Homo sapiens: one gene and its partner. The protein of the gene in region 1 interacts with the protein of each later gene in a biochemical or structural test. Each region holds a gene or a part of one and is shown on either strand. Other genes may lie near its edges.

What was found.
Region 2: the proteins of ABL1 (region 1) and PRKN form a complex in vitro, tested with the Homo sapiens proteins (2 studies listed by BioGRID, with this or other methods).

What each region holds. Positions count from the first base shown.
Region 1 is NC_000009.12:130,874,897-130,880,253, reverse strand, and holds part of ABL1 (tyrosine-protein kinase ABL1), read right to left. Parts: coding exon 5,202-5,357; intron 1,840-5,201; coding exon 1,687-1,839; intron 187-1,686; coding exon 97-186; intron 1-96. UniProt on the Homo sapiens protein: Non-receptor tyrosine-protein kinase that plays a role in many key processes linked to cell growth and survival such as cytoskeleton remodeling in response to extracellular stimuli, cell motility and adhesion, receptor endocytosis, autophagy, DNA damage response and apoptosis.
Region 2 is NC_000006.12:162,721,267-162,724,766, reverse strand, and holds part of PRKN (E3 ubiquitin-protein ligase parkin), read left to right. Parts: intron 1-3,500. UniProt on the Homo sapiens protein: Functions within a multiprotein E3 ubiquitin ligase complex, catalyzing the covalent attachment of ubiquitin moieties onto substrate proteins. Substrates include SYT11 and VDAC1.

The DNA.
Region 1 (5,357 bases):
GAACTTTCACCAGGAAGTGAACCGAATGACCCAGGCTGCAGTCCCACATGGCTGCCCTTTCACCCCACTGCAGGTACCCCGGGATGGGTACTTTACCGTCTGAGATACTGGATTCCTGGAACATTGTTTCAAAGGCTTGGTGGATTTCAGCAAAGGAGGGCCGGTCAGAGGGATTCCACTGCCAACCTGGACAGATGAAACCCAAGTCAGATCATCCATGAGATCTGGCTAGCAATACGGGGCTAGCAGTTCTCAAGGAAAAGTCTAGAATGAAAGCAACATTCCAATCCTGCTAACCATCTTTTGCTGCAACAAGTCAAAACGATGAATGTCATCATGTCCTGTTATAGACATTAAGAATTTGAAAAGACGTTAGATGCTGGCAGGAATATGGATTGTAAAACCCCAGAGAGACAGTGACAGCAAGAACTGCATTTACAAATATATTTTTCCCAGTCCCGCTCTAGTAGGTGTAGAAAATTACTAAGCCAAACAGCTCACCTTCTATCTTGTTCTTTCTTCACGGTTATCAAAGTCTGAAGTAAAGAAATTCTCATGAAAATGAGACTAACATGAGGACTAAACAGACTGACAAAGCCTAGTACTGGGGACCAGGAACAGTCACTCCCATATGCGTCTGACTGGAGCATACAATGGCACAACCTTTTTTAACAGTTTGGTAAAATGTATCAAAATTTAAAACCCACACAGTTCTTGGAACCAACAGTTCAACTTTTAGAAATACCAGCCAAAGTGCCCAGAGATTCGTGTACATGAATATTTGTTTCTGCTTTGTTTATAAGGGCAAAAACCAAACAAATGTGTAAAACAACCAAATGCACATCAAAAGAGGACCGGATGAATGAGTGAAATGGAGTACTGGGCAGCTATACATAAATAAGAGGTAGGGAGAGGGAGAGATCTGAATATATGGACGTGGAAAGACATGTGTGGGAAAACAGTGTAAGAAATGGCCATATAAATACCTTATAAGATATATGAAAACATCCTGTGTGTGCATAGTACAGATAACACATATGTAATCAGTATAAAACGACCAGATAAAAATCACCTCGCAGCTGGGCGTGGTGGCTCACGCCTGTAATCGCAGCACTTTGGGAGGCCGAGGCAGGCAGATCACCTGAGGTTGGGAGTTGGAGACCAGCCTGACTAACATGGAGAAACCCCATCTCTACTAAAAATACAAAATTAGCCGGGCGTGGTGGTGCATGCCTGTAATCCCAGCTACTTGGGAGGCTGAGGCAGGAGAATCGCTTGAACCAGGGAGGTGGAGGTTGAAGTGAGCCAACATTGCGCCATTGTACTCCAGCCTGGGCGACAAGAGCGAAACTCCGTCTCAAAAAAAAAAAAAAAAAAAATCACCTCATGAGCTTAGCTACTATAGCAGAATGTCTGTGAAAGCAGGGCCCAGGAATCTGTATTTAGGAATACACCCAGGTTTGGTATCTATCAATACCATTTTTGCTTTAAAAGACAAGTCACGCACATACTATTTATCTGTAAATAAAGGTCAATAGGTAGCAAATGGCTACATTAGCTGCATCTGAAGAACTGGAATGGAGAGAGCTCATGGAAAAACTTTCAACTTTGTGTACACACTCCTGCACAGTTGAATTTCCTGGAATGCCCACATATACTCGTGAGAACAGGCTGAGGAAGGCTTACATGCTCGCATGAGTTCATAGACCTTCTCTGGGCAGCCTTCTGGGCGCTCCATGCGGTAGTCCTTCTCTAGCAGCTCATACACCTGGGACAGGTCAATTCCCGGGTAAGGGGACATGCCATAGGTAGCAATTTCCCAAAGCAATACTCCAAATGCTGAAAGAAAACCGAAAGAGAAAGGCTGTTCAAGATGTGTAGCATTTCACTACACTACATTTAAAATCAGTTACCTTTGCAGCAGACCTCAGAAGGGATGGCCCCAGCAGCAGCCCAGGCTCTGACATTTTACCAGGCTCTTTATCATCAGAAGACCAGGACAAGGCTGGGTGCGGTGGCTCACGCCTGTAATCCCAGCACTTTGGGAGGCTGAAGTGGGAGGATTATTTGAGGTCAGGAATTCAAGACCACCCTGGCCAACATGGCGAAACCCCATCTCTACTAAAAATACAAAAATTAGGGGCCGGGCACGGTGGCTCACACCTGTAATCCCAGCACTTTGGGAGGCCGAGGCGGGCGGATCACGAGGTCAGGAGATTGAGACCATCCTGGCTAACATGGTGAAACCCTGTCTCTACTAAAAATACAAAAAAATTAGCCGGGCGTGGTGGTAGATGCCTATAGTCCCAGCTACTCGGGAGGCTGAGGCAGGAGAATGGTGTGAACCCAGGAGGTGGAGCTTGCAGTGAGCCAAGATCAAGATCGCGCCACTGCACTCCAGGCTGGGTGACAGAGCGAGACTCCATCTCAAAAAAAAAAAAAAAATTTAGCCAGGTGTGGTGGTGTACGCCAGTAGTCCTGGCTACTTTGGAGGCTGAGGCAGGAGAATTGCTTGAACCCAGGAGACGGAGGTTGTAGTGAGCTGATATTGCTCCACTGCACGCCAGCCTGGGCGACAGAGCAAGACCCCGTCTCAAAAATAAAAAAAAAAAAAGGAGACCAGGACAGAACAAGACTCAGTAAACTTACCCCACAAACATGCTAGAGGAGGGCAGATGATGAGTTTCAGACCCTGTGGGGTCTTTTAGGTAATGTGACCATCTTGCTGGGATATGTGGTAGAAGGAACCTGGCGCCGGAAGTCAGCTGGCCATGTTAACTCTTAGCTCTGTGACCAACCAGCTCTGTGCCTAACCGGCCACCACTGCTTTCTGGGTGCACAAGACTATCTCCAAAGCCCCTTCTAACTCTAAACATTTCATAAAAATCTTATGAAATCTTTGAAAGTTTTGAAATCTGAGATTATTGCCTTAAAATTCCATTTCCCATTAAAGGATAAGATTCCTTAGAGAAATGGGTGATTCAGGCCTGGGGCACAGAATGAACCTGCAATAGCTTGTCATTTGAGGGCGCGGACGTCATGGAAAACTACAAAGTTAATGTCAAAATGACTAGGAGCTAATGTGAAGTTCCCACTGGCCAAAGACGAGACAATCTGAATATCAACAGGGAAAATAACCGCAGTGGACTGAAACACATCAGATATATATAAATCTGAGAGTTCATAATACCACCAATGACAGCAAAAACCTAATTGGCCACCACTGAAGGGTATTAAGAAACTAACTTGTGCACTTTGGGAGGCCAAGGTGGGCGGATCACGAAGTCCGGAGATCGAGACCATCCTGGCTAACGCAGTGAAACCCCGTCTCTACAAAAATAGAAAAAAAATTGGCCGAGTGTGGCGGCGGGCGCCTATAGTCTCAGCTACTCGGGAGGCTGAGGCAGGAGAATGACGTGAACCCGGAAGGCGGAGCTTGCAGTGAGCTGAGATCATGCCACTGCACTCCAGCCTGGGCGACAGAGTGAGACTGTCTCAAAAAAAAAAAAAAAAAAAAAAAGAAACCAACTTGTGGCAGGGCATGGTGGCTCACGCCTGTAATCCCAGCACTTTGGGAGGCCAAGGCAGGTGGACTGCCTGAGCTCAGAAGTTCAAGGCCAGCCTGGGCAACATGGTGAAACCCCATCTTTACTAAAAATACAAAAAAATTTAGCCAGGCGTGGTGGCAGGCACCTGTAATCCCAGCTACTTGGGAGGCTGAGGCAGAAGAATTGCTTGAATCTGGTAGGCGGAGGTTGCAGTGAGCCGAGATCATGCTACTGAACTCCAGCCTGTACTTTGTACCCCAGAAAAAGCAAGACTCTGGCTCCAAAAAAAAAAAAGAAAAAGTAATTTGTTATTTTAAAAACTGGTAAATAAAAACAAAGAAGCAAGAATTGACCCTGCTCTTCCTACATGAACTGTACCACTGAGTAACCACACAGATGAGGAACTGTTTCTCCTCATACAAGTTTCCACTAGTAACTTAACAGGAATGACAGAATTAGAGAATTCCTACCTGGCAATACCTAGCAAACTATTGGATCTAGGCACTGTATATCAGTAACTGCCAAAAATTACTCAAAAAAAAACCCCCACAAAAAAACGATAGCAAATCAAGCATTTTGGGGCCAGGCGTGGTGGCTCACGCCTGTAATCCCAGCACTTTGGGAGGCCGAGGTGGGTGGATCACGAAGTCAGGAGTTGGAGACCATCCTGGCCAACATGGTAAAACCCCGTCTCTACTAAAAATACAAAAATTAGCCGGGGGTGGTGGCATGCGCCTATAATCCCAGCTACTCAGGAGGCTGAGGCAGGAGAATCGCTTGAAACCAGAAGGCAGAGGTTGCAGTGAGCCAAGATCGTGCCACTGCACTCCAGCCTGGGCAACAAGAGCGAAACTCCGTCGGAAGGAGAAGGAGAAGAGAGGAGGGGAGGGAGAGGGGAGGAAAGGAAGGAAGGAAATAAATGAAGCATTTTGTATCTACTGATGGAAGGGCACACCATCTCCCCTGATCCACTCTTACTAAAAGAGAAACAGTCAAACCTGAATGTGATGAGGCCGTTCCAGATCCAGCCACCCATTACTAGGAATACTGAAGTCAGAGGAACATATTAAATCACACCATGGGAGACAATGAGCAAAACCCAGAACGTACGAAACTCTAAGGATGGTTTCTTCAATAAACAGCAAGGGAAATAAAGACATGGAGAGGGGGCTTATAGAGGAGACTTAACAGATCAGCAGATACACTGTGCACCATATTTGGACCTCAGGCCAAATACACAGTTAAAAAAAAAAAAAAAAGGGTGGCTGTGCACAGTGGCTCACACCTGTAATCCCAGCACTTTGGGAGGCCAAGGCAGGCAGATCACCTGAGGTCAGGAGTTCTAGACCAGCCTGGCCAACATGGTGAAACCCCATCTCTACTAAAAATACCAAAAATTAGCTGGGTGTGGTGGCGGGTGCCTATAATCCCAGCTACTCAAGATGCTGAGACAGGAGAATCGCTTGAACCCGGGAGGGAGAGGCTGCAATGAGCCAAGATTGCACCACTGCACTCCAGCCTGGGTGACAGAGTGAGACTCCGTCTCAAAAAAACAAAAAGAAAGGAAGAAAAGAAAGGGAAGAGCAAGAAAGAGGCAGAAAAAAACCCTCCTGTAGTCAGGAAGGACCACTTCAGTGCAGCAGCAGCCCTTACCCCAGACGTCGGACTTGATGGAGAACTTGTTGTAGGCCAGGCTCTCGGGTGCAGTCCATTTGATGGGGAACTTGGCTCCAGCATGGGCTGTGTAGGTGTCCCCTGTCATCAACCTGCTCAGGCCAAAATCAGCTACCTTCACCAAGTGGTTCTCCC
Region 2 (3,500 bases), on another chromosome or scaffold:
AAAACAAAGGAAAATTTGTTTTTCTTCTCCCTGTGTTGAGGGAGTGCTGAGAGAGTCTCCAGAGCATATTAGATAATATTATCAAGACTTTTCCTGGGTCTAGGCTGTGCCTGTTGCTGCTTCTGGAACAAGTTAGCCTAAAACAGGAAAACTTATTTCTCTTTCTTTTTAATTTTATTGTTCTTTAATTTCCCGCCTCAACCTTACTGCGAATAATATTCTGCCACTTTATTTAAATCCTGGCTTAGTTTAAGGAGAAACGTAAAGATGGGTTTCCTGGTAGAATAGGAGTAAACAGGACTGACTGTGACCTCACTGCTAATGACATGTACCTTCCTTTTACTTTCTCAAAACCGAAGATTCCCTTATTGGCATGAGGACTGTTTCAAAAGTACTTACATTTCCCACCTGCATTGTGATTGATGTGTTGAATGCCCTGACCCAGGCAGCTACAGAAACATAATTTAATTGAAGTCGGTTAAAAATTGTGCCTTTGTGGAAAGTGTGGAGAAGGACTTCAAGATGATATAAAGCAGAATAGAAAAGCTTAAAAGAATTCAATTTAGAAAAATGTAATTTTTGGTACCTCTATTAAAAATATATTTTGACTTTTTTAAAAATGAGCAATTCTTTGTGTTTAAAATGGAATGTTAGTGGGGATATTTGTGGTATGTTCTAAATGTTCTGTAGAACTGGATTTAGGTATTTGAGTAACAGCAGATATTAGAGTGCATGGTTATATATACAACAATGTTGTCAGTATTGAAATACACATTCAGTGTCTTAGACTTTTAAGAAGATTTTTGATTGACAAAAACCATTCATTGGAACATAGTCTCTTCTATACCTTGTTTCACTTAGCATCTCTTTGAGAATTTACATATCTGCATGTCCAGATCCACTCCACAGCGATTCCTGCCTAGTCTTTTATAGGATACACTAATTATGAAAATATTTACCAATAAATAAGCACTCATTAGGTTTACAGACAACTGTTGTCAGAAGTGTTTGTGGCCATATCTTTTTACTTGCACATGTAAGCATAGATGTAAAATAAAAATCGTATGACAATTTGAGTTAAAGAGTTTGTAGATTTTACATTTTCCTAGGTATTTCAAAATTTTTCCAAAATAAGTTGCCCAATTTTACAAGCCTATCTAAAGCCTCCACTAATACAACATGGTAGTAAAGAGCTGCCCTGCCCCTCTGGGCTGAAAATTGCCAAAAGACGTCCTTCCTGAGACTGACTCAGCTTTCACTAGCAGAACGCCTCCTGGATCTCCGGTCCCCCACCTCTCTCTCACCCTAGGGGTAGTGCCTTTCAGTGTACAAGCTGCACAACTGTCCTTGGTGGCCCTGCCCTCCCTTTCAGTGTGTATAAGAGTGCCCATTTCCTCCCATGTGCCATCGAAGATTTTTTATTTTTGCCGTCTTGACAGATGAAAAACAGTATCTTTTAACTTTTCAAATTAATTTAGAAGAAAACTTCTCATTCTCATCTTATAGTGCGTTAGTTTTGCAAAAGCAGATCCAGTGATTCCAGCACCTGCTATGTACCCTTAACTGCTCTAGGTGCCAGGGAAACGAGGGAACACAACAGAAAAAGTCCCTTGCCATCAGGAATGTATATTCCGACTTCACCATTTGGCTACACATCTGCATATTTGTTTTCAAGCTTGTGTGCAGTGAATTTTAAAGTCTCAATTTATATTTCTAGTTGAATATACTGTGTACTGCTCTTTGCCCTGCCATTTTGATAAGTTGATGAAAACCAGCTCTATGCCTAAGTACCCCAAAGCTTCTGTTTATAATGAGGTAAAATTGTGTCAAAAATAGGCTCTACTAAAGTTTTGCATAGAAGATTTTATGTAATTATATAATAGTTCTTCCTTGGGTCCAAAGGCTCTAAAATGACCCTTTGCCCTTTACAATTTTGGCCCTATTTCTGAGGATGTTTTTGAAGTCTGCATTTTTTGAAACCTCATAGTTTCATTGCCTGAAAATGATACAATGAAAGTACTTTGTATTAAGATATGTAAATCCATTCCTACCTCCAAAGTTTCTTTGAAAAATGCAAAAAAAAGAGTTCTTACTTCGAAATGCTTCATATTCATGAAAGCAGTTTTAATGCAAAATACTTTATTCTGTTAGCTATTAGTTCTTTGATCAATGAAAATTGTTTCTTACCTGCTGTTTCTGCAGCCTTTAATTGTAGCCCAGTGCTTATTCAATGTTTCTGTTTTAATTTGCATTTAATGAGCTCATTTTAAATGTTTCTTCGTAGTAATCTGAATGGTTTCTCTCCCTCAATTTTGTAATATTAAAGAGACTCATGTGACAGTCGGCTGATTTATGTTGCAGCTCACCTCCCTGGCTTATTTACTTCATCCTGTAGCATAGAATCTTGGTTAAAAGGAATTACAGTAATAGGATTCTTTTCCCCCAGTAATTTCCTAATTACCTAGGACTCTTAACAGATTAACTCAAATGTCTGTTTTTCACCAAATAGAAACCTTTTTTCCTTGAATGAATAGGTATTTATGATTATTATTTCAGTGTCATTTCTTTATACCATATGTATTAGATGGTGCTGGGTAGGGATGGGTACACATAGGTTGTATTTGTCTATATATTGCCTGTGGGGAAGGTACATAGAAATGACCATTTCTTCCCAATAAGTTTGTGGCCTAGTTGGGCTGATTAGGCTTATATTGGTGGTATAGATTGCACCTTCACCACCACAGAAGAAGAGTAATTAGAAAGATGTATGTACATATCAGCACACACATACATGCCTGCAACACGTGATTTTTCATGTTTCTTTTGTTCATTTGATTCTCGTTGATCTGAATGCCCTTTCTTTCTGTTGAACATCTCAAAACTACTGTTCATCACTCAAGATCCAGTTCCAATGGCACCAACTTTATGTGAAATTTTCCATGTCACCTCTTACCCTCTTTTTAGTGTGAGGCAATTAGCACCTCCTTTAGAGTCAGCCAACATTTTAGTAACTACCCTTCATCAGGTCCTTGTTCATAGTCTAGAAGGGGTACAGAAAAGTAAAGATTTACAAACCTGAAAGGTGGGTATCATAATATAGGTTTATACAAGGAAGTACTGGAAAACTCAGCCTATAGAGCTTGGAAGATCCAGCTGTTTCCCAGTGGAGCCATTCCAGTTTTCCTGCAGGACAAGTAGGAGTTAACTAGGTGAAGGCGGCCTTCTAGACAGGCATGGAGGGGAGAGAAGAGAATAGAATGAAAGGTATCTGGTGAGGCTGCAGGCACACCAGATAAGCTTTGTCAAGGAGGTAGGTTTAAAGTTGGCGATAGGGAGGAGTCACTGAACCATTATCTACAAAAGAGCATTATGAACAGGTTGTATTTTAGAAAGATGTCTGTGGCAGTACTAGAAAGTTATGAAATAGAACGTTGTAGAAAATAGTTACACTAGTGCCAGCAAGTCCAGATAAAGTGTTAATAGAGGACTTCTCATGACCT